Homo sapiens: one gene and its partners. The protein of the gene in region 5 purifies or fractionates together with the protein of the main gene of each other region. This does not show direct contact. Each region holds a gene or a part of one and is shown on either strand. Other genes may lie near its edges.

The links.
Region 1: the proteins of HGH1 (region 5) and SLK fractionate together in Homo sapiens (co-fractionation; one large-scale study listed by BioGRID). This does not show direct contact.
Region 2: the proteins of HGH1 (region 5) and CAPN10 purify together in Homo sapiens (co-immunoprecipitation; one large-scale study listed by IntAct). This does not show direct contact.
Region 3: the proteins of HGH1 (region 5) and LPAR1 purify together in Homo sapiens (co-immunoprecipitation; one large-scale study listed by IntAct). This does not show direct contact.
Region 4: the proteins of HGH1 (region 5) and EFNB2 purify together in Homo sapiens (co-immunoprecipitation; one large-scale study listed by IntAct). This does not show direct contact.
Region 6: the proteins of HGH1 (region 5) and ELSPBP1 purify together in Homo sapiens (co-immunoprecipitation; one large-scale study listed by IntAct). This does not show direct contact.
Region 7: the proteins of HGH1 (region 5) and CIB2 purify together in Homo sapiens (co-immunoprecipitation; one large-scale study listed by IntAct). This does not show direct contact.

What each region holds. Positions count from the first base shown.
Region 1 is NC_000010.11:104,025,926-104,030,015, reverse strand, and holds the end of SLK (STE20-like serine/threonine-protein kinase), read right to left. Parts: 3' UTR 783-4,090; downstream 1-782. UniProt on the Homo sapiens protein: Mediates apoptosis and actin stress fiber dissolution.
Region 2 is NC_000002.12:240,593,067-240,597,062, reverse strand, and holds part of CAPN10 (calpain-10), read right to left. Parts: intron 3,158-3,996; coding exon 3,016-3,157; intron 2,521-3,015; coding exon 2,354-2,520; intron 2,040-2,353; coding exon 1,759-2,039; intron 745-1,758; coding exon 542-744; intron 383-541; coding exon 121-382; intron 1-120.
Region 3 is NC_000009.12:110,965,244-110,969,239, reverse strand, and holds part of LPAR1 (lysophosphatidic acid receptor 1), read left to right. Parts: intron 1-3,996.
Region 4 is NC_000013.11:106,511,264-106,515,259, forward strand, and holds part of EFNB2 (ephrin-B2 isoform 1 precursor), read right to left. Parts: intron 1,550-3,996; coding exon 1,266-1,549; intron 1-1,265. UniProt on the Homo sapiens protein: Cell surface transmembrane ligand for Eph receptors, a family of receptor tyrosine kinases which are crucial for migration, repulsion and adhesion during neuronal, vascular and epithelial development.
Region 5 is NC_000008.11:144,136,465-144,140,942, reverse strand, and holds HGH1 (protein HGH1 homolog), read right to left. Parts: upstream 3,170-4,478; 5' UTR 3,108-3,169; coding exon 2,515-3,107; intron 2,437-2,514; coding exon 2,336-2,436; intron 2,229-2,335; coding exon 2,130-2,228; intron 1,935-2,129; coding exon 1,843-1,934; intron 1,755-1,842; coding exon 1,632-1,754; intron 1,556-1,631; coding exon 1,391-1,555; 3' UTR 92-1,390; downstream 1-91.
Region 6 is NC_000019.10:47,993,014-47,997,501, forward strand, and holds the start of ELSPBP1 (epididymal sperm-binding protein 1 precursor), read left to right. Parts: upstream 1-1,618; 5' UTR 1,619-1,798; intron 1,799-4,488.
Region 7 is NC_000015.10:78,121,130-78,125,125, forward strand, and holds part of CIB2 (calcium and integrin-binding family member 2), read right to left. Parts: intron 2,611-3,996; coding exon 2,576-2,610; intron 1-2,575. UniProt on the Homo sapiens protein: Calcium- and integrin-binding protein that plays a role in intracellular calcium homeostasis. Acts as an auxiliary subunit of the sensory mechanoelectrical transduction (MET) channel in hair cells.

The DNA of each region.
Region 1 (4,090 bases), on a different chromosome or scaffold from region 5:
AGCTTTAGGGGTTCAAGTATTATATCCCCTTTAATAGTGATCCTTATCTTGATTAATCAAGACATAGGAGTTTTTTCCTTGTTACTAGATCTACCTAAGATACCCAAAGTCTTCATCAAGTTTTAGCTCAAGTAAAATAGGGTACAAGTCCAAACTTACTACCTTCTCTGGACAAAACTCAGAAAGAGGATGGGCAGATATGAGGTTATGTCCTCAGCTGGATGGCAATGGATGTTAGCCTCTTTTGTTTCATTTTTTTTTTTTAAGTCAAGAATGAGCTCAATAGTGCACAACGCTCCCAGATTAGAAAATGACACTCCATGCCTCCCTCCAGCTGGACACGTGCCGAGTGATGCTGCCTAGCGTCTACTGAATCTTGCATGAACGTTATCAATGACGAAGAGACTATTTTTGCAGAAGTGAGGTCATATGATTTGTGAAATGCTTGGTGAGAAAAATCATCCATCCCAAGAGGAAAAGAAATTAAAAACATACACATATATACATAGGCTGATAGAAATATTTTAAGCACCTCCCAAAGGAGGGGTTTGCATTCTGAAAGACAACCCCCAGCAAGTTATCACTAAAAACTACATTTGAGTGTGTGTGTGTTTGCGTGTATGCTGTGGACTACACACAGCTAGGAATACTAACTCTGGAAGGGTCAGAAGACCTGCGGGGACTGCAAGTTTTACAATATAACTAGGACCAACAACTGCAAAGTGTTCTCAGGCAGGACACTCCAGTTTCAAAGATTCTCAATAAAAGACTGCTTCCCAAAATTGATTAAGAAATAACTTTATTTTTCATGTGTCAATCCCATGATTGAAAAGACATGTTGCTCTCAAGTAGATAAGAGGCATAATCTTAAACAAAATTCTTTCTGAAAATTTAGCTTATGAACTCATTACACTGCAAACCAGAGAAGGAGCACAAAAAGCTGCAGCCCACATTGAAACCTGGCAAACACTCTCCGCCAAAATTAGTAGCAGGAATGTTAAAGCTTTATCAAAAACATGTCAGCAACGGAATAGCAACAATACAGCCATTAACTGTTGTGCCTTCAACTTAAGAAAAGCATTTAAAGAATCACCCCATTTCTTATAAAAATCATTTCTCAGAAAAGAATTGTTAATCAAAAGACTATTAGAACTGGAACTCTCTTCTTTCACTTCAGTTCTAGATTTTCTTTAATCAACAATATCTCTAGTTAATACTTGGACAGAATTTGGCTTCTCAGAAGAGTCTTTGTCATTTAAGCACAGTGTGGAATGGGAAAAAGTGTATAGTTACAAGGAAACTAGAAGAGTACAAAAAAATAGTCACTTCTGAAACTCGCTGATGCTCAAGAAATCAGAGACCCTTCATTAAGGTGGGTCTCATATGCCTGAGAGCTTTGTGCTTGAGGAAGTATGACTTAGAGGTAGCTCTGGTTCTGGTAATTTATATTTAATTATAATTTGCTGTATCCTGTCACAAGAGAGTTCTAATATTTTCAGCAAAGTAAAAGCATTCAACATTTTTTCCTTACCCACCCTATAGCTTCCCCATAGAAAAAGATAAGAAAAAGCTTAATGTGACTCCACATAGAATAGCAGCTAATTCAGCAATTCGCACTGTATGGTTGTTGACAGGACTAGGAAAGGCAGCCTAGTGCCCCAAGCTGTAGGAGCTGGATCTGCAGAAGTGTGCAGGTCTGCTGTGTTCACAGCACTCAGGGAAAGAGGGGAGGAGGTGGCTGATGAGGGTGCACGTTCGGAGAAGTCTGTATGTGTTTCATGGCATATTCTGCCACAGCAACAAAACAACCAAATCAGCAGTAGATTTGACTGTACCCTTCGATTTCAAAGAAGTCTGCGCCCCTCGCCCACTCGCCACCTACACTTCATGCAGGAAAGATAGATCACTATCATCTATTTGAATACAGGGCCTCAGAAGAGGTGGGCTGGTATGGGTACAAACAGCGTATTTTATAACAAAACACTTTTTGAAAAGATTTATATAACTTTAAGTATTAAAATGAATGCTTTACCTCTACATATGTATCACTGTACAGTCTTGCACCCACACGATTATGGTCATATTTGAAAGCGAACTCAAGCACAAACACTGAATCCAAAAGGCAGTTTTAAGGGAGATCCAACCTTACCCACAGCGCCAACCATTCCACTCTGAGCCTCTCTCCTTGAGTCAATAATCTGAATGTCAAGTTGAAAGGAACAGAAAGAATCAAATATTCAGACCAAATTAATCAGGCACCACACACTATTTAGCGCACAGGGTATCAATTAAATGATACTAGAAAAAAAATGTCTACTGCCTGAGGTATTCATTTTTTAAAAGTCAATAAACTGAAAATTTCAAAGGAGAAAGTGGTATGAAGACGTTCCTTCCCAATCCCTCTTCAAATAAATCATTAAATACACTGGGCAACATTATACTGTCATTTTTATCATAACAATATAAACAATTTTTATCATCATCCTGAATATTACTTTATAAAGATATATATTTTAAAAGGCTTTCAAAACATTTTTCAACCCAGCATTTGAGAATAAAGCATTAAGAGTTTTGTATACAGTAACACATTCATGTGATAAGTGTATGAATTTACAACCATACATAATATGTATATATGTATATATATTTATATAAAAAACAAACTTGGCCAGAAGTTAAGGCTACCTACGAAGTTGTCCAAGTAAATTATGCTTGTCAAAACAATTATAAAATTCAAATCACACATGCATTTTTAAATCATCTAAATCACTGACAAACAAGGTTCAGCATCCAAAGTTTTCAAATTAACTGCAAGAAAGTGCTACAGACATTTACATTTTCTAAATATGAATCAGTGTTCCCACAAAGTTACATTTAAATTTTTCACCAGCCTCAAAAGTAATATAACTGAAAACAAACTTTCACAATTTGGTACCTAGCACTCTTAAGAGAGAATAGGTTGAAAATGGCAGGCAGCAAGCATCATTCACAAATGTGCTGTCTCAGACAGCAAAGTACAGTTTATAATACTGTCTGACCTGACACGTGGTTGAAATTCTAAGCCTCATAAGGGACTAGGAGTGAACATTTCATTAATAATTACACACACCAGCAACCACATGATAAAGGCTTCAGGCTTTTCCCACTCAAATCAAAGTGAATGATTTAAACATGGAACAAAATAAAACCAAGACATAAGTAGCCTCATTTCAAAATAAGGAAAAGTAATTCCTGACGTGCCTAAATATTTAATTTAAACTTTTAAAAAAGTATTCTGAACTAATGCCTCTTTTAAGATTAATTTCTGAAGATATATTTATAAATATAACTCACAGCCTGCAGGCCTCTGACAGAGTTTTAAACAGAATTAGCTAAGATGGAGAGAAATCATTTAACCAGCTCAGGTATTATTTTAGAAAATAAACACAGATAGCTAAACCTATATTGCTTAAATTTCATGAGTTTTACATTTCCAGTTTGCAATCTAAAAGCTACCTCTTTTTTTCATCTTTCCAAACTTTGTACATGTATTTTAGGATGAAAATTTCTATCAAACGGTAAGAGAAGCAAAAATTCCAAAACAACCATGTTTTTAATTCTAAAGATGTTTTTGTCCCTGTTGATCAAAAAGAAAATCCTACTTACGACTTGACTGAAATTTAGTGTTTTAGGCACTATCTTAAGAAAATTAGCACCCTCAATTATTAGCTCATGCCAAAAGAGGTAATTCGTTTTGACAAATCACTGAAATAATTTTTCTCTTTTAAAAGAGGTTGTTCCTATTTAAAGAAAAAAATATATTCATTTACTGAGTCAACAGCATATTTGAGCAAATCATAGCTTTTTTATGAGAGCTGATCCACCAAAAGAAAATTATCCCAACTCTCTGCAGCAGAGCTTCAACTACAGAATTTAGGCATTGAGAAGTTACGTCAGGTAAGAAGAATTTATTAATACTTAGTGATGTAACAGTTTTTCTTAAATAACTTTAAACATTATTTCTCCAACAGTTTTCAGGTAGCAGTGTCTAAAGAACATAATTTTTAAGATGAATATACAAAGTCACCTTAGTCACCAAGATGCTACTTTG
Region 2 (3,996 bases), on a different chromosome or scaffold from region 5:
AGGGCAGGGGGAGCCCAAGTGACTGAGCCCAGAGCCCTCTGTTGGGACAATGGAGGCCAAGATGCAAATTCTCTGAGGGCCCCTTCTGCTCCCCCTCCCTCCCTGGGGCAAGGAGCTTGCCTGGAAGATATGGAAGCCGATGGGGTGGAACTCGGTGTCACTGGGCCGGCAGTGCTGATGCAGAGTGATGCGGACGCAGCGGGGGCCAGGGCCCTCGGGGACCGAGAAGGGGAAGCAGGGGTTGGTGGGGTATGAGGCAAAGTTCCTGCTGCCCCCCGCCGTCTGGCCGACTCTCCAAGAACCCCGTAGCTGCACGGTCCCCCACTCCCCCGCAGGCAGGGCTGCCCCGGGGGTGGTGTTCTTGGCCACTGCCCTGATGGCGCTGCCAAGAAGACAAACATGGGAGGGCGCTGGCAGCAGGTTCCCGGTGGCCTCAGTTCCCACATGGACACCTGCCAACCACAGAGGGAAAGTGCCCAAATCCTGCCTTGGAAGGGCCTGTGGCCTCGGAGAGCCAGCAGCACTGCGCGGTTCCTCTCACCTAAGGGAGACTCGCCCGGTAGAGAAGACTCGGAGCAGGAACTCCCCTGGCGCGTCCTTCAGGAAGGTGCTGGGGACAGCCAGGTAGTAGCCCGGTGAGAGCTCACAACGCAGGTGGACCTCCCGGTCGTATGCATGGCACGCGGTGCCAGCCACGGGGGGCATGGACAGGACCCTAGGCAGATTGACCCGCCGCTTCTCTACCTGTGAGCACGTGCAGGAGGCTCAGTGTGGAGGAGCGGCCGGGGTCAGACGCCCTGGCCTTGACCTCCCTGCTGCAAGCACAAGGGCCTCTGGAGTTGACAGATGAAAGCGCCAAGGCCTGTCAGCACCCTCCACCCTCTCTCAGGGACCAGCTAGAGATGCCCACCAATCCCGGGCTTCACTTGGCCCTGGCGCCAGTATCTGTCCCAGACACGAGCCTGCAAGTCCTCCTTGTAGCTGGGCCCACAAAGGCACCGTGGCCCAGGCAACCTGGGGGCTGCTGGACAGTGGGCCTTCCAGCAACTTCTTTTGCAAGAGGAAAGGAACATCATGTGGGCCACATCCATGAAGGGACAGGGAACAGTGTGGTGCCAAGTGTCACACCCTGTCAAGACACACAAGATGAAAACCCAGCCCCTGAGCGAGCAGCCGGCATATCCTCGACCCACACTCAGGCCCTTTGCCCTCAGGCGCCCCCATCTGTTCTTCCTGGAAACAACACACTTTGTGAACCAGTGGTTGAGCCTGGGACTGCCTGGGCCTCAGAGCAATCCCATGAGATCCGTGTCAGGACCCCGTCTTGCAGGGGAAGAGACTGAGGGAGGCAGGGAGAGGATGTGTGCCAGGTCACACAGCAAGCTGCAGAGCTGGGACTGGCCCTGACAGGTCCTCAGCCGCTGGCTCTACCTCCTTGCCTCAGAAAGGCACGGCGCTGCCAGGAGCCCCCCGGGTCCAGGCCCCTCCTGCGGGTCCTGCCCTGGCTGCAGACTCTGTTGCTTTCCTTTGGCCAATGAGGCACACGGCAAGGCAGAAAGACCTGCAGTCTCAGGTCAGAGCCGGGTCTGGGAGCACCAGCAGACGTCAACCCCGTGCAACAGCCCAAGGAGGGGGGAGACTGGTGGGGCCCGTGGCAGAGTCACATGTGTCCCGGCAGAGCCAGTCCTAGAACCCAGACCTCCATGGGCCTCCACACCACCTGCTGAACCGAGCGTGAGCCAGACGGGGCTGAGTTACCTTCCAGAGGTGCAGACCCACAGCCTGGTAGTGCTTGCCCGGGATGCTCGCTGGGCTCCACGAAGTATGACTGTCACCCACCAGTGCCCGGGCCCGGCCTGCCCAGTCCGCCGCGTGCAGCCTGGATCTCTGCAGGACGGCAATGTACACCTCACTCGGTTCTGAGACCCGCAGCCAGAATTTGGGGTTGCTGGGAAAGCCGCTGTTGTTCCGGCAGCCTCCTGCTGACTGGCCCTTGACCCAGGCCCCAGGCAGCGCCCGCGTATGGCAGAGCAGCCTCTCTAGTGAGAAAACACCAGGCATCAGCTGTGGGACACGGCTCCTCGCTGGCCTCCCGCCATGGTGGCCTCATGAACCCTGGCAGGGTCTAAGCAGCAGCTACGGCCACAGACAGAGCCAGCCCCTCCCACAAGCCCACCCTCCTCCCAGCTCCTGGGACAGAATCATCACCCTCCTCCCGGCTCCTGGGACAGAATCATCTCTCCACGCTGAAGAGAACCAAACTGGGCCTGGGCAGGGGGAACCCAGGCACCTGCCCAGCCTCCTCACTTCGGCAGGCAGAGCACGTGCCCAGCACAGCCCCTCGGGGCACTACCTGTGTAGAGGCTCTGCAGGTGGCCGGCCTCCGTGACCGGGTAGCCAACGGTGAGCTCGTCAAACTCCCTGAGGAACTCCTCCTCCTCCACCCAGAACTCCCCTTCCTGGAGCTGGGACAGGAGCTCAGATGCTACCGCTGCATCTACCTGGCTCCACCCTTCACCCCTGGAAGAAACCTCATCTCAGCAGAAGCCCCTCCCGAGAACTGGTAGTGTCAACTTGCCGGCAGGCTGGGGGGAAGCCTGGAGGGGACCCAGAGAGCCCTGAGTTCCTGCCAGCAACCCCGTGCCCCAGCTCTGCAGCCCCTCCCACACCCGAAGCAGCTCTGCAGCACAGGGCCTTCTGGGCAGCGGCCACCCTGGAGCCCTCTCTTTTCCCAGAGGAACTTCACGCCTCTGGATGCGTCTTCCCAGGACTGCTGCCCGAGCCCGTGATGATGTCTGCCCTATTGAAACCCCAGGCCCAATGGCCACCTTGGTCCCAGGCCTCACAAGGATTGCCTGGAGCCAAGACAAGCATGGTGTCACGAGAGCAGGGACTCAGGGGCCTTGCTGGAGACAGCCAAGTACAGTCCTGACAGCTGAAGGTGACCAGGACACAGGCCAGACTGGCACTGGGCCCCCCTCCCGACAGCAGCATGGTCCAGGCCCCAGCACTCACCCCTCTCTCCAGAGCCCCTGCCAGCACCGCCGGCCCCAGGGGTTCTGGATCCGCAGCAGCAGGATGCACTGGCCCGCCTGACCCTGGAGCTCCCGCAGGTCCGAGACAATGAAGGCATGGAACTCCCCCAGCTCCCGGGCACCTGCATGAGGAATGGCGCAGGCACAGGCAGGAAGGGCACCATGGAGTCCCAAACTGACAAGGACACACAGGCCTCTGCCTCCTCCTCTGGAGATGCTCCAGCCCACCCCACTATGGCTACACGGGAGACCCCAGATCCCCATGGACCACGAGAGCTCCTTTCTTAGCAGCTGTGACCCATCAGCTCAGGAGCATCTCCAGGAGCAAGCACACGGGGCCTGACTCGGCTGCCATCCGGGTCTGGTGCTGGGTAAGTCATCCCCTTCTCTAGGCCTCAGTCATCGTCCGTACCCATCTGTGCACGATGCCTGGCACAGCACCAGTTCTCAAACATGCTGCACAGATGCATCTGCAACTGCCAGAAATCTAGAGAGTGTTTCTCTTGGCAAAGCCTGCTAGAGGTAGGACATTCAGATAGTGCCCTGGCTAGAAGCCCACTGGAGGCATGGAGGCCCAGGGGGGCAACAGCTCCACCTGGCCAGAGACCTTGAGACAGATGGGCATAGAAAAGAAAGAGCCAAACAGAGAGGAAGGCCACATCTGTGGCGGGGCAACGGTCTAGAGAGGAGGGTCTCCTGGAAGGACTTCAGTCTCGCCCACGCCGCGGCCCCTTGCCACCTCAGCAGGCTCCAATGCACCTCCAGTCAGTGCCAGCTGCCATCTCTCTCTGCCTGGGGGCTTCCTCTAAAGCCTGAAGTGCTAGGACTTAGCGCTACCCCACCCTGGAGCACCCAAAACCAACAGCTCCCCGAGCTAATGCCCACCAGACCAGCGCCCTCACTCCCAGGTGGGAGGCTCTGAGGCCAGCGTCCTTCCTGGCACCCCAGCGGGGCTGGCGGG
Region 3 (3,996 bases), on a different chromosome or scaffold from region 5:
AGAACATACATTCTTAACATAGTTATATTGCCCCAAGAGGACAAAAATTGGGTTTTGGGAGATGAAAAAAATCCCTCCAGAGCTTATACCTCTATCCAACAAAATCTTATTCCTTAGTATTTAGTTTTTTCTCATTAGAAAAAATTTAAATGTAATTAATTTTTCTCCTTAAGGATCACTAATGAGAAAAAAATATGGCCAAGAAACACTGGTTTCTTGAGGGAGGCACATAGGCTCACCAGTCACCCTGCTTCAATTTACTAATTACCTGAGCCTGAGGGGAAGGTATCCACCCTCTTAGTGCCTCTATTTCCTTACCCACGGAATGAGCATAGCATTAATGAAGCCAACCTGATAGGGTTATTTTAAGGCGGAAATGAAATAATTTCTATAAAGCTCAGAATAGTGCCTGGCACATATTCTGGGCACATATTGCCCAGTGCATATTAGCAAGCATTGTTATTATTGCTCAGCAAGCCTTGTGGCAGGGCTGGGGGATACAAGAATAAATAAGAGAAATAAGTTTTGCCCTGCCAGAGTTTACAGATATAGTGGGAGATACACAGATAAAACAAAAAGTTACAACGCTTTGTCACCCATGCAGGAATGCACAAATACAGGAAGTATGGGTGCTCTGGGAGGAAAGTGGAGACCCAAGAAAAGATTTAGAGGATCAGGGAAGGCTTCTTGAAGGAAGACCACTAGGCTGAGGACAAATTAATATGAGTTATTTTGGTAAAGGAGAAGAAAAAGCATAGGTGAATGTCAAGTGTCCCAAGGTATGTGTGTGTGTGAGAGAGAGAGAGAGAGAGGGAGCAAAGCATTTAGAATTTTGTTTTGGATGGTTGCACTACAGTGGGGCATGAGATTGTAAACAGTGATGTCCCTAGAGCCACCTATACCAACTCACAGAAGCAGATTGTTAAATTTTCAGGAATTTCGCGAGCCAATTGACTTCATGCCAGCAGCTTGAAATCAGCCACATGGAATAGTTATACTGCAGAAATCGGCAAGTGCTAGAATTAGCATAAATGGGTTAGGTTATAAAGTTGGAGATTTTACAGGGTCTTTCAAACCGTATTAATGAATTTAACATTGATCTTAAAAGAAGTCTTTGTTAGCTTAATGGTCCCAGCCTTTGAAATAGACCTGGGTTCAAGTTCTGACTTTCGATAATAGTTTTATTGAGCAAGTTTATTAATTAACCTTAACCAGGGTAGTTGCATTATTCTCACCGTATTTTGGGAATAGTGGCAGCCTCTGATGGTTGGGGAACTAAGCCCACGGGGAAGGAGTCAGCTATACACTGGGACATTAGGTCATAGAGATAGATAGCTTCTTCTGGAGAGATGCAGACCATTGGGTCACTTGGTTCCCAGGATCCTTTGGCCAATGATGGGCCTCCTAATTATATGTCAATTCCTCACATGTAATTTGTACAGTGAAATTTAGTCCAAGGCTGACTTGCCCTTGCCCCGAAGCTTCTACTGATGTCTTCTCTCTTATTATCAGTTTTGCCCAAGTTCAAAGAAGGTAAAAATAATTTAGATATAGCATCTTCTTAGGCAAGCATAATAAGCAGCTCACTCAGTCACCTTAGCCTGGTATTGTCTGGCACATCAACTTGCTTTCTTTTCCAGTGAATTCAGGGACCTTGTAAAGATAAATCCACATTCAAGTGTGAAAGGCCTGAAAATCCTTTTCTAAGGCCAAAACAACAATTTTTTAGAAAAACTTTTGGTTTTGTTTGTTACTCTATTCATTGGGTAACAAAGAGCATTTTTCTAATCAAGGCTGCCTAATACTACATATAAACGAATTAATATGAACAAATAGCTTGTGATTGTTTCAAACAATAATAGGGAAGAAAGCTTGCATTGTCACGCCTGCTGGGATTGCTGTTTAGTTAGTTGAAAGATATGCCTTGTTTTTTGAAGTGGGGCAAGTTTGTATTCTCTGCTTTACCCCTGCCTTGACTCTGAGACAGATTTTTGTTTTCTCATGCTGAGAGAGCACCTAGCTCTTACAAAGCTAGGTGATGAATACTAAGACGAAACTGGACTAGCAGCAGCAAGAAGATGCCGTGTTTGTAACCGATTTATAATTCTGCTGGTCCAGACACTGAAAAAGAGTTTTCTTATCCAAAGGAAACTCCTGGGATGTATTTGCAGACAGGAACCTGTTCATCATTAGGTTGAGTTAATGTGTTCGTATCCTGTGGATATTGGGGGCATGGGGATGGGGTAGGAAACCAAACAAACTTGCAGCTCTCCAGAGCCATTTTCTGTTTCTAGCACTGTGTTAAGCATTACCCTGTGCTTGATCAGGTTACTGTGGATAGAAGTTGGATTAAAAGTTTCATTTTCATTGTTCATGAAAGAGTCAATAGTTCAGTACCAGAGTGAGCAGTTTGGCTTCTCTTAAACCTAGGATTATATTAGAGGCCAGAATAGGTATCTGAAAACCTAAAAGATATTCAGGTCTCACACCTGTGATTCCAGTAAGGCAAGAGTCTTCTTTATCAGTATTTTTCATGGTGTATCATTCTGTCTCTCATTTGTTACATGACCATTTTGTTATTTTTTAATTTTCATTTTTATATTTATTTGAATTTAAATTATTTTATTCTAAAATATTTTACTTTAAGTTCTGGGATACATGTGCAGAACATGCAGGTTTGTTACATAGGTATACATGTGCCATGGTAGTTTGCTGTACCTATCAACCCATCATCTAGGTTGGTTTTTTTTTTTTTTTTCTTGAGATGGAGTCTCACTCTGTTGCCCAGGCTGGAGTGCAATGTCGTGATCTTGGCTCGCCACAACCTCTGCCTCCTGAGTTCAAGCGATTCTCCTGCCTCAGCCTCCTGAGTAGCTGGGACTACAGGCGTGTGCCACCATGCCTGGCTAATTTTTATATTTTTAGTAGAGATGGGGTTTCACTATGTTGGCCAGGCTGGTCTTGAACTCCTGACTTAGTGATCCGCCCACCTTGGCCTGCCAAAGTGCTGAGATTACAGGTGTGAGCCAGCATGCCCGGCCCATCATCTAGGTTTTAAGCCCGCATACAATAGGTATTTGTTCTAATGCTCTCCCTCCCCTTTTCCCCCACTCCCAGACAGGCCCTGGTGTGTGATGTTCCCCTCCCTGTGTCCATGTGTTCTCATTGTTCATCTCCCACTTATGAGTGAGAATATGTGGTACTTGGTTTTCTGTTCCTGTGTTAGTTTGCTGAGAATGATGGTTTTCAGCTTCATCCATGTCTCTACAAAAGATGTGAACTTATTCTTTTTTATGGCTGCATAGTATTCCATGGTGTATATGTGCCATATCTTCTTTATCCAGTCTGTCATTGATGGGCATCTGGGTTGGTTCCAAGTCTTTGCTATTGTAAATATAGTGCTACAATAAACATGCGTGTGCATGTGTCTTCATAGTAGAAATGATTTATAATCCTTCGGGTATATACCCAGTAATGGGATTGCTGGGTCAGATGGTATTTCTGGTTCTACATCCTTGAGGAATCACCACACTGTCTTCCACAAAGGTTGAACTAGTTCACATTCCCACCAACAGTGTAAAGGTGTTCCCATTTCTCCACATCCTCTTCAGCATCTGTTGTTTCCTGACTTTTTAATAATCATCATTCTAACTGGTGTGAGATGGTATCTCATTGTGGTTTTGATTTGCATTTCTCTAATGACCAGGAATAATGAGCTTTTTTTCATATGTTTGTTGGACACATAAATGTCTTCTTTTGAGAAGTATCCGTTCATATCCTTCACCCACATTTTGATGGGGTTGTTTTTTCTCTTAAATTTGTTTAAGTTCCTTGTAGATTCTGGATATTAGACCTTTGTCAGATGGATAGATTGCAAAATTTTTCTCCCATTCTGTAGGTTGCCTGTTCACAACCATTTTGGTTTTAAGTCAAGAACATAAAGATATTTTGATCCCTCCAAGTGATTTCCTGTAGCTTTCATTGAAGATGTGAATT
Region 4 (3,996 bases), on a different chromosome or scaffold from region 5:
GTAAGCTACTCTATGTATCAAGTTGGCTTTAAAAATAGGTTTTCATTCTGTGCTTTGAAGTGTAGCTCTTGAGCTGGGTGCAGTGGCACATGCCTGTAGTCCGAGCTACTTGGAGGCTGAGGTGGGAGGATCACTTGAGCCCTGGAGTTCAAGGCTACAGTGAGCTGTGATCATGCCACTGCACGCCAGCCTCGGCAACAAAGCTAGACCCTGTCTCTAAAAAAATAAAATAACAATAAAGTGCGGCTCATAGGTTGAGATGCAAGAGTTTCAGTTTGATCACCAAGAGTCTCCTACCTAAAGTTTTAGAGTCCACCTTGGGGCAAATAATAAACCAGTGGCAGATAGCAGTTCCCTAATAAACTGAAGTCTATGGTAACCAAGCCACTGGAAAATTCAACCCAATTAATTATGAGTATAATTTTAAACCAAAGAAATTAAGAAAAAAGACTTCATTGCTTGAATGACGCGAACAGCTGTCTGAGTCACCTAGACTTTAACACCACCTGGGGCCCTGGGAATGACGCTGACGAGAGATCTGCACATAGTAGGCGTGGGCTCCAAATGTGCTCATCAGCTGACTTCACATCCTCACAAGTCAGCCTCAGATATGACCCAAGGGATACGTACCATCTCTTCTTGAAACAGCGTGTCAAATTATATATATGTATGCAAAAAAGAGTAATGTACTAAGCAAACCAAGTTTCGTCTTTTTCTTCTGAATCTGGTTTTAATGTGACCTGTCATCCCCATCTTTCGAATTTATGAGCTCCATCTTCTCTAGACTGTTAACTTCTTGAGGAAAACATGCTATTTTACCACCTTTCACTGCTGAATCCCTAGCCCTTAAGCACAGTCTCTGGCACAGAATAAATACGAAATGAATGAGTGAATGAATGGATGGATGGGTGAAGAGAAAAGGCAATGCACAAGATTTACCTATCAAAATCCACCAATGGTCCTTAAAAATGGTTTTGTCAGTAGAGATGCTGAATATATTCATATAATACATTTATTTCAATACTATTAAGAATTCTAGTGTTTTTTTTTCTCTTTGGGTATGTATACTTAATGAATACTGGTAGCACAGGGTCCCAAATTCAATGAAGTTTTCTTTGAAAAAAAAAAAGGGGGGGGGGACAATTTTTCCACATAGATTTTCATCAAATTATTTGTCACAATAATTTTAAGGAAACAAAAAATTGATACAAACCTATATAGCTTATCTTAATTTCTATAAAATAAATGAATAAAATTATACTTACATATAATGTAATAATCTTTGTTCTTCTGAAATTCTAGACCCCAGAGGTTAGGGCTGAATTCTTGAAACTTGATGGTGAATTTGATATCTTGGTCTGGTTTGGCACAGTTGAGGAGAGGGGTATTTTCCTTCTTAATAGTGCATCTGTCTGCTTGGTCTTTATCAACCATATAAACTTTATAATATTCATACTGGCCAACAGTTTTAGAGTCCACTTTGGGGCAAATAATATCCAATTTGTCTCCTATCTGTGGGTATAGTACCAGTCCTTGTCCAGGTAGAAATCTAAAAGCATAAGAAAAAAAAGCCATTGAGTTGATAAAAATTAACAGTATTAATGACAGTTACAAGATAGCCAGGCAATGCCCATAATCCCAAACTACACATTTTCAGATTCACACTTTAATTTATCAAAAGTCTCTTACTTCAGATCAATATGGGATGAATGTATTTTGGAATTAAGCTTTAAAAGAAAAAGGAAAGACAGAAAGAAACCACTTTCCTTACTCTAAGCTGTAGGATCAGGCTACCTGCTGACATTTCTTTACCACCCCCTCGCTTGTAATATTTCAGTACTCCTTTGTGTAACTTTACCATAACTCTTCCTCCGTGGTGAGTCAGATCTCCCACATGTTTGTTATTTTTTAACCATTGGCAGCTTTAGTTTATTGGGCATGCCACAGAGAAAGCTCGTCAATTGGAGGGAACAGTGGATCCACTAATACTTTGTTGTCCTGTTAGTTTCCCTGTGCTGTTGATGTTAATTAACAGACAAGTTTCATCAAGAATGTTTCAAATTACTTATCATAATTAGTCAGTCACTGATCAAACAATGGGTTTTTTATTACACTGAACAAAAGCAATGTCTTACAAATGCGTAAAAGATAACCAGAAATAATTAGTTGTGGTATTGATTCAGCTGCAAAATGAAGTGTCCTCTACTTGCAAGGACAACTACTGTCCCTGCCCTATAAATCTTTTTTTTTCTTCCCTTGAGATGTATTTGCTCCAATTAATTCTCAGAAGCAAATCTTTAGAACTAAGACTACTGATACAATATCCCCTTAATGCTTATAGCTGAAAGCCTCCCTCCTCCCTTTCCTCTTTCTTGGTAGCCATGTTCCTGAATGATCTTTCTTAATGGGGAGTTTCTCTGAAAAACTGAAACAAGAACTTCCTAATGAACATCCTTCTACAAGTGCTAACACTAACAACACACTTAGAAATCTCAGCTCGTTCGTAAGCAGCCAAGCCTGCAGGCTCATTAAAATATTAAAGCCTAAGAACAAAGAATCGCCTCTGAATCCTTCCAATCCAACCCTTTCTTTAACCAGAGACGCCCACCAGCCATGATGACTACAGGGTCATAATTCACTAAGAGATAAAGCAAGGATGATAGGGCACCCCCAATTTCAAACCCATACCAAGGGAATAGTTTATGATTTATGCTAATGAATGGTATTAATTTTCTGAAAAGTGCATGAGTGTGGTTATGAAGCAGCACAAAACATAACAGAAATCATACTATGGATTCATATTAAAAACCCACACTCTTTATTGGGAAGAAAAATGTATGTGGCTGTTACCTCTTTCTTGGGAATGTGTTACTGTACAACCCCCAAAAGAGAAGGATGGTCCCTTTTTTTTTAACTGAGCTCCTTTAGCAAGGATATATGACATTCATTCATTCAAAAAAACTTTCTGTGAAACAGAACTCAAAACGAATTTTTATAACAATGATATATTTAAAACAACCATGTGTGTACTGTTGAAGAATTCTCTAGAACTTTTGACAAATGCAAATCACAGTGGGAGCCTCTCTGTGGTATCCCCTCAACCTTGTGAATGGCAATGTGTTCTCTGTAGACAATTTCATCTTCTTTATGGACAAAACACAATTCAGTTTCTCAAGTAACAGACTGAATCAGAATGTTTGGGATGAGGCTAATTTCTTTATCTCCCCCAGCCCCTCCAACACACACACAGTAATTCTGATGTGCTGCTGAGGTTAAAAACCTCAGGCAAGATGCCGGGCAGTAAGTACAAACTAAATTCCATAAACATTAAATTGATCATCTTCCTGACATTTCCTTTTTCTCCTGTCTTATTCCTTGACCTTTTTAGGACATCTTTAAGGTTTACAAACACCAGGAGTCAATTCCTGCCTAGGGTTTCTCATACACTCCAAACCTTTTCTATCCTTAATCTGCTCCTTTTGTAGCCTGCACAGACAGCACTATATAAGGGTTAGCTACTATTAGGGGAAGTATTCCTAAATTACAAGCCCTGGGGGCATCCCAGGCTTCAGAGATTAGGATCCTTAACCAAACCAGATGTACCCATTTCCTCAACCATTCATTCAGCTCTTTTAAGAAAATGCATTACACCCCCTCCCAAGCTGTACATCTCTGCAAATCTTAAAACTCTCCCACATTACACCCTATGTCTCAAGTTTGGCTCACTAAGCTCCTTCTTCATTCAAAATGCTCCCAAGATCCTGTTTCCTTCATGAGGATTTTTTTTTTCCTGCTTAACTAAAGATTCACAGGAGGTTTCCTCCCAGGCCATGCAAGTCACTCCTCTTGACTCTCATCACTCACCGTCTCAGCGACAGGTCTTGCTGGTGCTGATGCGGTGAGGTCGAGAACATGGGACGCAGGGGTCGGTGTGGCTTTGGGGATCTCTGTGTTTGAGGCCATATTTTCAGAAGGCGTAAGTCATATAAATCATTT
Region 5 (4,478 bases):
GTGGGTTCTGCCCAGCTGGTCCTCTAGAGCTCGTAGCAGCCAGCCTGGGAGTGAGCGCCTCCAGGAGGCGCTCCAGTAAACTGAGGGTGGGTGGGTGGGGCAAGGCCAGATAAAGCATTTATTCTGTGAAGACAGTGCTGATGTCTGAGTGCTAAGAGGGCAACTGGCCTCCAGTGGCAGGTGGGGGCTCTGGCCAGGGGAAAACATGGTCCACACATGCCTGCATGAGTGGCAGAGCTTTAATGGGGGCAGGTGAGAGGAGATCCTGGAGGCGGGAGACGCCCGGCACCCAAGCCACAGCAGGAGACCATAGGGGACGCTCCAGTTTTAGGGTGTGGAGTGAGGCATTGTGAATTGCCAAGAAGACAAGCTAAGCTCCTTCACCAGGGCTTGACGGGCCTGGGAGGGCCCATCAGTGAGCAGGGGCCAGCCCTCAGGATCCCAATGCAAGAGGTGGCAGTGAGGTCAGGTCAGCTCAGGAAGGGAAGTGTGGCAAGAGCCACCATGACAGCCTGTGGGGCTTGGCAGCCACATAACTGGCAGGTGAGGGATGCACATAGGTCCAGGGGAGAAGCACGTAAGGCGCCTGGGCCTATAGTGGGCTCTACCACAGGGGCAGAGGGTGGCTGGGGGAGAAGCTTGGGCAGGGACTAGGCTGCAGGCACATCTGGAGGCTCTTGGCAGAGGTAAGAAGGCCAGGGAGGAGTGGCCCAGGCTCAAGGAAGCTGACCAGGGAGACGGCCTAGCTAGAGAGGCCAATGAGAGCACCCACTCAATCTGAGACTGGGAAACAGGAAGACTTAGGGAGCTGACAAGGGTTGAGGGCAGGGTCCTGGAGCATAGGTCAAGCAGGGAGGCACAGTCCTAGAAAGACCCCAGGATCTACGTATGGCTGGGTCAGCCCTTTGAGGCCAGGTCTCAGGGAACAGGGAGCTGAGAGCTGCAGGGAGTGAGGCTGACAAAGCAGCACTTGTACCTATGCGCCCACCTCTGCCCAGACTCTGCAGTGCCCTGGGGATTGGGAGGCTTCAGCTGGCTCCTTGGGGCTTGCAGTGGTTTTCTGTCCAGTCCCCACGCCGTGCCCAGGAAGAGTCTTCTCATGGCTCCCTGGCCATCCGCCTGCCACCTCCACCTTCTGCACAGGCAGCCGAGTCACGGTGCCTACCTCACAGTACTGCTCTGCACAACCTTCATTCTTGCTGGTAGCAACACTGCACAGGGCTGGAAAGTGCCTCCAATCCTTACTGGAGCCTAAGCGTAGCTCTGCTTCTCAGAAGAGCACAGTCTCTGAACAAGGGGACCCAGGGGGCCTGCAGACAGCTGCAGGAAGGCCTGGTCTGAGAAAGCCTGGCAAAGGGGACCCTGGAGCTGGTGTCCGGCTGCAGGGGCCTCAGGTGGGTGTGGCCCTCTCCACCCATGGCTCTGGGGCCAGCTCCCGCTCCAACTGCTCCTGCTCCCTGCAATCCAGCTGCTGCAGCTGCTGCTCCACATCCTCAGGCACCTGCACCTCCAGCAGGTTTTCCATGCCACGTTCAGGCTCGTCCCCAATAAGCACCTGCCAGACGGGAAGCAGGTGAGCAGCTGGCCAGCTACAGACACCCCTTCCCCAGCCTCTCCAACCCTGCACCAACCTGGATGAGCTTCTCACAAGCCGTCCGCACGTCGGGCTCCGGCTCCCAGCTGTGCAGCTCTCGAAGGATCAGGTAGGCTCCCTGGTCCCGCACCTGCTGCCGACCTGGTGCTGTGGCTGTCAGCTGAGGAGGTGGAAGAGGTTACCCAGATGTCAGCATGCTCATGTGTGTGTGTTGGGGTGGTGCTTATTGCAGCAGGGCTCCTGCTCACCAGCATGATGGCTTCAACAAGCATCTTGCGGATGTCTGCATCAGGTTCTCGCTGCTTGTCTGGTGGCAGGTACTGCAAGTCGACAGGCAGCCCTAGGGGTGAGTGTGTGGGAGCCACTGTGTCCCTGGGCTGGGCAGCTGAGCCAGGCTCTGCCTGTGTAAGTCCCACCTGTGCTCAGCAACTCACTGCTGCAAAGTTTCAGGAGCCTGTGGCCTGGACACCTCTCTCTCCCTCCACTGGCCTCCCTCCTCTCCGGCCAACTCTGAGGCTCCACACTAGCCACTCACGTTCCATCTCTTCCTCGGAGAAATCCTCAGGCCCAGCCAAGGGCAGGAGCAAAAAGGGGAGAATGTCCACCTCAGGTCCAAGCAACCACTCGTGATGTCCTGAGGGATGGTGAGGGTGGGGAGACGGGAATGGAAACTGGTCCAGAGCAGCCCCGGAGTCCAGTCCCCACACCTGGCAACGCACCCCCGCCACACCCACCACTCACGGTGCTCGAAGCAGCAATTCCGCAGCGTCCCCACCACCCCGCCCCTGCGTACAGAGGAGTCGGGGTACTGGGTAAGGGGCAGCAGCCGCTGGACCACGCACCTGTTGGGAGGTGTCACTTAGGGCCGTCCCCCCTAACTTCCGTCCCCTCCCCGCCCGCGCGGGCGCCCTGGGCTTCACCTGTCGGGGTCCAGTAGGAAGGCCCGCGCCGCAGGGCGTTGGCTGAGGTTGGAGAGCAGCGGCGCTAGGTAGTGCAGGGGCGCGCGGGCGTTGTAGCCGGGCGTGCACAGCGCGCGCACCAGCCGCTCCAGGCCCGAGTCTGCCGGCTCCGCGGCCGCCAGCGCCGCCATGAGCGCTGCACACGGCGCCGGCTCGCGACTGAGGTTGGCTAGCGCGGCGGCCGCCTCCTCGGCCCAGGGCCACTGCGGGTCCAACGCGCGGCCCATCAGGCGCGCTGGCAGCCCGGGGTCGGCCGCCAGCAATGTCTCGTGCAGGCCGGGGTCGGCGGCCAAGTTCACGAGCGCGCGGGCGGCGTCCCGGGCCGGGGCAGAGGCCGGCGCCAGCTCCATCAGCGCCTGCAGCAGCGCCGCCTGCCCCGCCAACAGCGCGCGGCCGGGTCCGCAGCCAGTCAGCGCCAGCACGTGCCGCACCGCCGCCGCCTGCAGGTCCGCCCGCGCGCCCGGCGCCAGGAAGGGCAGCAGCTTCACCACCTCTGCCTCCGGGCTTGCCTCCGGCCCTCCCGAGGCGCCAGCGCCAGCCCCGGCCTCCCCCATGTCGAGCGACACTCTGCTGCCACCCGACCGGTGCCAGCGGTCCGCTTAGGGGTCCGCTGTGTGGCCCGCAACCCCGCCCACCAGAGGAGCGAAAGCCGCCCTGGCCAATCCGAGGCTGCGCACTGGGCTCAAGGGGCGGGACCGGCGTGCGGAGGGGAGGGGCCAGGCCGCGCGCGGGGAGTTATGGGTCTCGGCGTCTGGCCGGAAGCTGCGGAGGTTGGAGACTGAGCGCTGTGATGTCCCGAGCCATGGGGACCGAGGCCCGGCGCGATTTGGCCGCCTGCCGCGTCCACACTCGCTGGAAGCGTCCATGTAGTCTCGGCTAGGTCGGCCAGTGCTTCCCACTGGGCGCTGGCCACGCCGAACCTGGTCAGCCGGCCCTGGCTTCTCGTGGGCCCTGAGGGTCTGAGGCCCGCGCCCCGGCTCCTCGACTAGGCTGTCGGGTCAGAGAAGGGCTGAATGGGGGAGTGGCCACGGGCCTCTCGGAAGGAAGGCCTGCTCTTGTCCAGGCTGGCACGGCCACCGAGAAGCTCAGGCCGTCCAGGGACAGGACAACACAGGGCCCCAGTGGGGACCTGAGGAGGCAGCTTTGGAGAGGCCTCTGGGCATCTCTGAGCTGGTAGCTTTGGGGCATTTGTCAGGACGTCTTCAGTCGCAAGTGACAAACCCAACTCAAACTGACTTGCACGAAGAGAAAATTTGTAAATGGAGGTTTGGAGGGAGCCAGCTTCCGGCACTGCTTTATCCAGGAGCTCTCTGGAGCCTTGTACTGTCTACCCTACCATTGCTCTCCCTCTCTGCTGCCCTGCTGCTCTGTGGCTCCATATCATTTCCACCTGCCACTGGCCGATTTTCTCAGAGCAGTTGGGAAAGAAAGACACTGGGACCTCCCAGTTCCATGGTCGTGGCAGAAGAGTTTCTCTGTCCCAGTATTGGAGTCTGCCCCAGAAAAGGACTCCAGTTCTTCACGTGTCCTCCACTGTGGGCGGAGCAGCAACCTTCTAGAGACACACAGACTGGGAGGAAGGGAGGGCAAAAGAAGGGCATTCCCTCACTCCAGCATTTTTTGGGCACCAGCCATCTGCCAAGCTGGTAGCTCAGGACACGGAACCAAACAACTTTGGTGGCCATTCTGGCCTCAGGGTCTTTGCACTTGCTGTCTCTTCTGCCTGGAATGCTCTTTTCTCAGCTGTACACAAGGCTGGCAACTTCTAATTATTTGTCAGAGCTATCTTCCCTGGGCAACTTACAGAGACTCAGCCCACCCGCCACCCATGACTGCTTGGTTTCTGTCTGCCTCCTTCAAGATAGCAGTACTTAGGCCAGGTGTGGTAGCTCATGCCTATAATCCCAGCGTTTTGGGAGGCCAAG
Region 6 (4,488 bases), on a different chromosome or scaffold from region 5:
AAAAAAATTGACGAATTAGCCGAGCATGGTGGCATGTGCCTGTTGTCCCAGCACTTTGGGAGGTTGAGGTAGGAGGATCGTTTGAGCCCAGGAGTTTGAGGCTGCCAGGAGCTATCATCGCACCACTGCACTCTAGCCTGGGCAACAGAGTGAGACCCTGTCTCAGAAAAAAATTGTGGAAAACGGGCTATCTTTTCATCTCCATTTTTTTTTCTCAGTAAGATGGAATCTCCTTTGGAAAAAAGTGTCAAAAGAAAGCCCTCCCCCCAACTAAACTGTCAAAAATGTCAGCAACTATCAAATTAGAAACTCTTATGAAATAAAAGCCTATCCAAGACTTTAAAAATACCTTTGAGGAATCCTAGTTTTTGGAAATGACTGTTGCCTTCACTTATTTCTAACATTTCTTTTTTCTTTTCTTTTTTTTTCTTTCTTTTCTTTTTTTTTTTTTTTTACATGGAGTCTCACTCTGTTTCCCAGGCTGGAGTGCGGTAGCGTGATCTTGGCTCACTGAAACCTCCACCTCCTGAGTTCAAGCGATTCTCCTGCCTCAGCCTCCCAAGCAGCTGGGACCAGAGGCGTGTGCCAGCAGACCCAGCTAATTTTTGTATTTTTACAAAAATACAAAAATTTTATTTTTGGGGTGTGCTGGGGTGTGCCAGCAGACCCCAGCAGAGATGGGGTTTCACCATGTTGGCCAGGCTGGTCTTGAATTCCTGACCTCAGGTGATCCACCGGCCTCGGCCTCCCAAAGTGCTGGGATTACAGGCATGAGCCACTGTGCCTGGCACCTCTTTCCTTCTTGTTTGAACATCTTTTACAGATCTTGATTATATTCTACAACATAATGGGTGGTCTCTGGCACACTGCCTTTTTGCTATTATTATTGATACTTTATGAAGACCAAGTGTGCTAAGACATTGTACATTTGCGGAGCCACCCATTCTCCCCTTTAACATCTTTGTTTCATGTCACTCTTCACTGCATTGCATGTCATCAGTTTCCCATTCTGCAAGTATTTCTTCAATCAGTTTCCCTTTATTATTAGCCATACGAGATCCAAAAATCCCTTAGCAGGTTAATGTGGACTGGGTGCAGTGGCTCATGCCTGTAATCCCAGCACTTTAGGAGGCCAAGGTGGGTAGATCACCTGAGGCCAGGAATTTGACACTAGCCTGGCCAACCTGGTGAAACCCTGTCTCTCCTAAAAAATACAAAAATTAGCTGGGTGTGGTGGCATGTGTCTGTGGTCCCAGCTACTTGGGAGGCTGAGGCAGGAGAAAGGCTTGAACCCGGGAGGTGGAGGTTGTGGTAAGCCAAGATCATACCATTGCACTCCAGCCTGGGCAACAGAGCAAAATTCTATCTAAAAAAAAAAAGAAAGAAAGAAAAGAAAAGAAAATAGTAGGGCTTTTTCATTGTTCAGCTGAAACCTCTCCAGCTCCTCATAGCTGAATTTCTGGGAACGTTCCCTCCTCTGTTCATTGATATTCTTGTCCCTGACCCCAGCCCCCGCAAGGCCCCTTCTGTGTACACTTGACTGAATTTTATGGGCCTCGTGGATATGCATGGGCTTATCTCCAGACATCATAAATTAACCACAGCTGATCTCATCCAGACTGCCTTCTGACAGTAACCACTGATGAAGAACCCTCCTTTGAGAAGCTGCCTTTGTGTCCTACAGACAGGCTGGGGCCAAAGCCATTCAACCAATCCCCAGATAATCCAGAGCTCTTGGGAGCAGAACCTTAAAGAGAGATCGTGGAGAGAGCCAGGGCCCAGAAGAACTCTCTCAAAGGTACATTTTGACCCGGAAACTTGGGAGGGTGTGACAAGTGGGGTCTTAGGGCCCCCATAGCAAAGAAGGAAGGTCTAGAGCATCATGGTGCACTAGAAATATAATACGAGCCACATAAATCATTGTAAGTTTTATAGCAGAAGCACTTTAAAAAACTAAGAAGAGTGCAATTTATTTTAATAACATGTTCTGTGGAATCCATGTATATCTAAACGATTATCATTTCAACACATAATGAATACAAATAATTATTAATGAGATACTTTACATTTTTTCCCTATACTTTGTCTTCAGAATCAATAGGTATCTTACACTTACAACATAGAACAATTTGAACTTTCCCATTTCAAGTGCTCAAGAACCAGAAGTAGCTGGTGGCTGCCATATTGGTTCTGGAAGGGGACAGCCAGAGAAAGTAGGGAAGGTGGTCTTGTGGGTGAGGTCCTTTCTCTGTTAATAAACTCAAAGAAATGGGTTAAACCAGATTCTATGAATGATGTAATGCTAAGGAAGGTTGCCTGAATCCCAAGCTTAGGGAAGAAACTGAAGAAAAGGGAACAAGTTACCTGTTAAGAGACTGGGTGAATTACTTATTAAATTCTTGGTAGTGGATTAAAATCTTCATGGTTCTGTCAATGTTTGGACCATTTCTCCAAGGTAAGGCTTACTCTCCCTATTTTAGGAAAAAGAAAGTTGAGATTCAAAAAGAGCTTACTGAGATCCTGTTGCTTCTCCCTCCAAAGGCAGCCTAAATATGTAATAGAAGAGGTGTGTGTGTGCGCCTAGAGGTGGAGGGAAGGCTTACACTGAAGTTTTGTTTCAGATCTGGGGTCATTTGCTGCTGAGAAGCAGAAGGACTCATTATTTTGAAGGTACACTATACTTCAGTGACTTTACAGCCCCATGTGTGCCTGTAATTATTCACAATGGCTTCTATAGTTTAGGTTTTATCTCCACTAAACAGATAGGAATACTGACTTGGAGTTCAGAGAGGTGAAATGACCTTCCCAAGGCCACCCAGTTGAAACATGGGAGAGGTAGGATTTGAACCCTGGTTGGTTGGGTGCTATTATCTTCTCACCGCTCCACTGTGAAATTATTTTGGCTTAAGAGAACGAGAGGGCAGAGGCTGTGGGCTAAGCTGCCTCTTGGGCACCCTATCAGGGCCTTAATACTACCAGTTGTATCTGCCATTATTTTCCATGTTGGGTGGTAGATATTGGTGCCAATGTCTTATCTATAGCTGTTTGAAGACAGCTATCATATCTGGTTCCTCTTGGTACCCACCACATTTCCTTATAGATGATAGGGTTCTTGAATACTCATTGGATGGGTGGTGGATTGAAGGAAGATTAAAGAATGAAAGGAAGGATGGGTGGATAGAAGAATGGATGAACAGTGAAAGAATGGATGGATGGAAGGATGGATGAGAAGTGGATGAATAAACTGAAGGATGGATGAAACGATTTATCTCTGATTGTTGAAGGCAGAAATCATGTATGGTTCCTCTTGGTACTTGACACAGTTTCTTATGGATGGTGGGTTTCTTAAATACTTATTTGATGAATGATTGATGGATGGATGATAAGAGGATGGATTCAATGAATAATGGATGAATAGAAGGATAAATGAATGGACAGATGAGTGGATAGATAGATGGCTGGTGAAAGATGGGCAAAAGGATGGGAGAATTGATAGACAGATGGAAGAATGGGTGGAAGGATGAATGGGTGGATGAATTGATGGATGGATGTATGGATGATGGAAGAAGATAGATGAAAAGATGGATAGATGGAGGAATGGATGTAAGAATGGGTGGAAGGATACATGGGTGGATGGGTGGATGGATGGATGATGAAAGAAGAGTTGGTAAAGGGATGGTTGATGGATGGATGGATGAGGGAATATTAACAATGAAGAGTATCATTAAGCAGAGAAAAAATTTCTCAGAAGGTAATATTTTCAGGAAAGTTTGAAAGCCAATAAATAACAAAAGTAAAAGAAGAGAATTAGAACATTCTCAAAATGTTTGCTTAATTAATTAATTACTGCCGGTCTAGCATGGTGAATGAATGTTATCATCATCATCATCGTCATCATTAATGGCCAACATTTATTGTGAGTTATCTCTATAGCACGCATTGTCTTAAGCATTTTGTATCTTTCATCTAATTCAATCCTCCCAACAACTCTATGAAGTAGAACTGTTTATTAGCATCCCCATTTTATAGAGGGGTAAGCTGTGAAGTACCTTATTAAATGTCACTCTGCTAGGCACCACTGAAACATCCACACAGGTTTTTAATTACTGGCATGCCAGTGGAATTGGAATGCCAACACCAAGAGGCCCCGGCACAGCGCTTTGCTCTATAGATGTTCAATAAATTTGGTAAGTCAATAACTACCTCATAAAATTAATCCATTCCTAAGACAGCCATCTCATTGTTGCAGATTTTTCATTTTGTGATTTTAAACTGCCTCCTATTGCTTTACTCAGGGTGTTCTATCTTTTTTAAAAACCATTTTAACTCTGCATGTTTTCATGTGAGCATATGTGCATGCATATACCTGTATATGTGCACATATGATGTGTGTATATTACACATGCCTGTATACATATATACACATCTATAATGTATACAGGCATGTGCACGTATATGTATATACACATTATGTATGTGCATATACAT
Region 7 (3,996 bases), on a different chromosome or scaffold from region 5:
CTGTCTTGTCTTAACTACCCTTCCCTGAGGGTGGACAGGTGGGCAGCAAACTCCAGGTAGCTCTTTTCATGTTTAATAACACCATCACCCAGCCCTCCCAGACACAGGGGCCTGTGAGAAAACAGCTCCTGCAAGCAATGTCATCCCCATGCTGCAGACGGGGCCTCAGGCTTGGGTTTTGCTCTGGTGTTGAATTACAGAGCCTAGGGTCCTGATGCGTGCAGAGGGGTGCAGGCCAGGGCTGTGGGGAGCCAGGACGCCTCTCCTCAAGCCCTCTCACCTGCCTGGAGCCCCTCATTTTCCAAGGGGCCAGGGATACCCCTGATATGGTTTGGCTGTGTCCCTACCCAAATCTCATCTTGAATTGTAGTTCCCATAATCCCTACGTGTCATGGGAGGGACCTGGTGGGAGGTAATTGAATCATGGGGGCAGTTACCCCGAGGCTGTTCTCATGATAGTGAGTTCTCACGAGATCTGATGGTTTTATAAGGGGCTTCTCCCCCTTTGCCCAGCACTTCTCTTTCCTGCCGCCATGTGAGGAAGGATGTGTTTGCCTCCCCTTCTGCCATGATTGTAAGTTTCCTGAGGCCTCCCCAGCCATGTGGAGCCATGAATCAATTAAACCTCTTTCCTTTATAAATTACCCAGTCTCAGGCAGTTCTTTATAGCAGCATGAGAATGGACTAAAACAACCACCAAAGGCCCATCATATTGGATCGGATTCCCGGACTGGCCTTCAAGCTCCTCTCTCCTCTTCCCCACACAGGCAATCTTGCTGCTGTCAATGAGACCACGGGAGGATGGGGGTGGGAGTGGGAGCAGGAGAAGCTGGCCTGTGTCTCACCTCTGCTGCTCCCCAGCCTGGAATGTTCTCCCTCAGCCAATCCTACCTGTCTTTCACCCACACACTCTTCATATGGTCACTGGTGGCTAACAGGTGCCATGCTCCCTGTTAGTCCTGCCTGATCACAAGTCTGGTGGGGAGCTGGGCCCCTGGGTCCAGGAACCCAAGGAGCCCCTAACAGGCTGTTAGAGCAGCTGGGATAGCACTAGGGTGGCAGGGTGTTGGGGGTGCTTATAAAGGAGATGATTCTGGAGTTGGGTCTGGAAGGATGCATAGCAATGCTGTGGGCAGAGGAGAGGCGAAGGACACTCCAGGGAGTGGAGATAGCCAGTGCAAAGGCCGAGGCAAGGGGCTTTTGTTGCCAGAATGAAAATGGCCGTGGGCCTCAGAAGACAGGCAGCTTGGGCTTGGCATCTACAAAGGTAGGGAACCCGAAGCTCCCTGTGAGGCTCAAATGAGGCTCCATGCCAAGAACTCTGAAAGGTAAAAGGTGCCACAAGAATGCCAGGGGTGACAGCTTTGTTATTCCAATACCGAGAGCCATCCTGTCGAAATGGGGACCTCACCCCTGACATCTCTCAAGCTACAGGGCAAATCCCACTTATCAAACACTATACCCCAGTGTTGCTGCCTCTCGGCAATGCTATGAGGGTAGGTTTCACTATCCCTATTATACAGAAGAAAACTGAGGCTCAGGGAAGGTCAAATGGTTGCCCAAGGCCACAGATGCCAGGTCTACTGATGCCAGGCCTGGAGGCTTTGCCCCTTGCTCAGACTCTCTAAGGTGGTGGAAGTGGGGTATCCCCTGCCCATGCAGGTGACAGGTTGGAATAGCAGCCTGGGTAGAGAGGAAAGCCGAGAGGCACTGCCTGAATGAGCAGAATGGTTAGGGCAGTGACAAGCTGCAGCACAGCTCTCTTGGGAAGCTGCAATGGGCTCTGGTCCCAGCCTGACCATCGATCTCCAGGGCAAGTGATCCTGGGACTTTGCTGGCTTTTAGTGCCACCCAGGCAGAGGGGCCTAGTGAGGCCCGTGGGGCAGTTTTCTTGGTATTCAGTGATTCCTGCTCACCCACTGGTCCTGGGGTTCTGAGGCTGCCGATCCCCTTTATCTTTCCCATCCAGGTCCACCCCCACCCCCATCAACACCAAGGAGAAGGGCTGTCCTGGGAAGAAGCAGAGCCCTGATGAATAGCTCAGGGGTGGTGGCCATGCCCTCAACTTTTAGACGTCCTAGGAGTGGAAGAACATCAAAGCTAGAGCCAAAGGGCCCTTAGGGACCCCTGGTCTAACAGACAGGGACTCCCTGCTATACCAGGACCCAGGATGCAGTGAAATAGCAAGGGACCTGGAGTCAGAGGCTGGGTCTTGAGTCCCTGGCTCTGTGACTTTAGCCAAGTTGCTAAGCTCCATCTGTCAAATGGGGATAAATGGATTCTCTTGTTACAAGGTCACAATGAGGATTAAATAAGAATGTGCCGGAAACTACCCACCTGAAAGCTCATAGTAAGTAGATGTTCATTCCCCAGCAGGAGGATCTGGGCCCTGGGAGGAGTGGGAAGCTCTAACTCCATCCTAGCCCAGTGGCCGAGTGGGGACCTGAATGTGGCTCCTGATACATGCTGATGCTCTGCCTCAGCCCCAGGAGCACAGCCAGCCCATGTGGGGTGCCCCAGCCTCACCCCGGCCCCAGTCCCAGTCCCAACAGGGTGAACGAGAAGCCACACTTACTTGAGGATGTCCTTCTTATTGAAGAAGGTGCAGTCCTGTTGAGGGAAAACACACAACACACAGTCAGTGTGCGGCTCCCAGACTTTCTTCCTCAGAGGCCTCGATGCCACAGGGCTCACAGGGGATAGCTCCGGACTGGGGACAGAAGAGTCACTACTATCCCTTTCCACCTTGCCCTCACCCACTGGGGACAGCTGGCTCTAGTAGGTATAGAAAATGCCTCCCAAAACCTTTATCCATCCTGGGCTAGGCCTAAGGAGCTTAGTGCATGGTGGGGGGCTGTAGCATGCTTTAGGGTACACATGTAGGAGGAAGATGAATGCTCACAGGTATGCGTGGCTGATTTGAGTGCCAGTGGGATACACTGGGGGATGACAGGGAGGTGGCTGGGAGACAACTCCGAATGAGGACCCACAGGGCCACCTCGTGTAGCTGCATGGGGTGCCATCCTCACTGTAGCCCTGAGCATGGTGCTAGGGGGGTTGTGCAGTCCCAGGCTCAGAGACTGAGAGTTCCAGGCACATAGACTGGGGAAGCATCAGTATATACTTGGTGTCTGAAGCCAGAAAGGGATGAGGTCACCCAGAGAAGGGAGTGAAGAGGCCAGGGAGATATGGGAGGGAGAAACGTGGGCAGGGGGAACCAGGTAGCATCTGGGGTAGAGGTGAGGGTAGGGGCTGCTGGGGATCCCCAGGTAAGCATTACTCCAGGTGGGGGGCAGCACTTGGCTCCTAGGGCCATCCAGATGACAAACTCATCTCGGAGGGGTCCTGTCTTTGTTTAGATGAACTGCCTCTATCCACAGCTTGGCCTGCCCAAGGTGAGTATCAACCACTGGGAGTCAGTGACAATGGCCACTATGCCAGCCCTTGGTGAAAAGTATAGAGGTGAAGAGGACCCAGCACTTTGTAAAATGCCCAACCGTAAAGGGCTTTTGTGCACCTCCCCTGCTGTTTAGCTCCTCCGCCTTTGTCCACTGTTACAGCATGAAGCAAGAAGGCCTCCTAGGTCTGCAGAGCCCAGAGCCCATAGGGCCTCCTGGGGCCATAAGCTGACCAGAGCCAGCTCTGATGAGGAGTGAATGGCTGAAACTCAGGCCTGCAAACAGCCAGGCTTGCCCTGAATGAGACCTGAAGCCGCTGGACATCAGGGCAATTGGATTGCGTGTTAAGAGGCCCAAAGAGAGGACGCCTGCAGGATGCACACAACATCTGGGGTTTCCACTGGGTGCCTTCGGGAGAGCTGAAAAGGGGAGAGCTGGTGGGAATTTCCAGGCCCCATTTGGCCCAACAAGTCTGTCCTTCTAAGCTGCTGCTCCCTGGGAGTTAGACTAAGGATCCATGCTGGCTTCTTGGAAACACGAGGGGTTCTCCTGGGGGTCTCAGCTTTGCTTTTGACAGTGGTTCCTCTGTAGGAGCCCA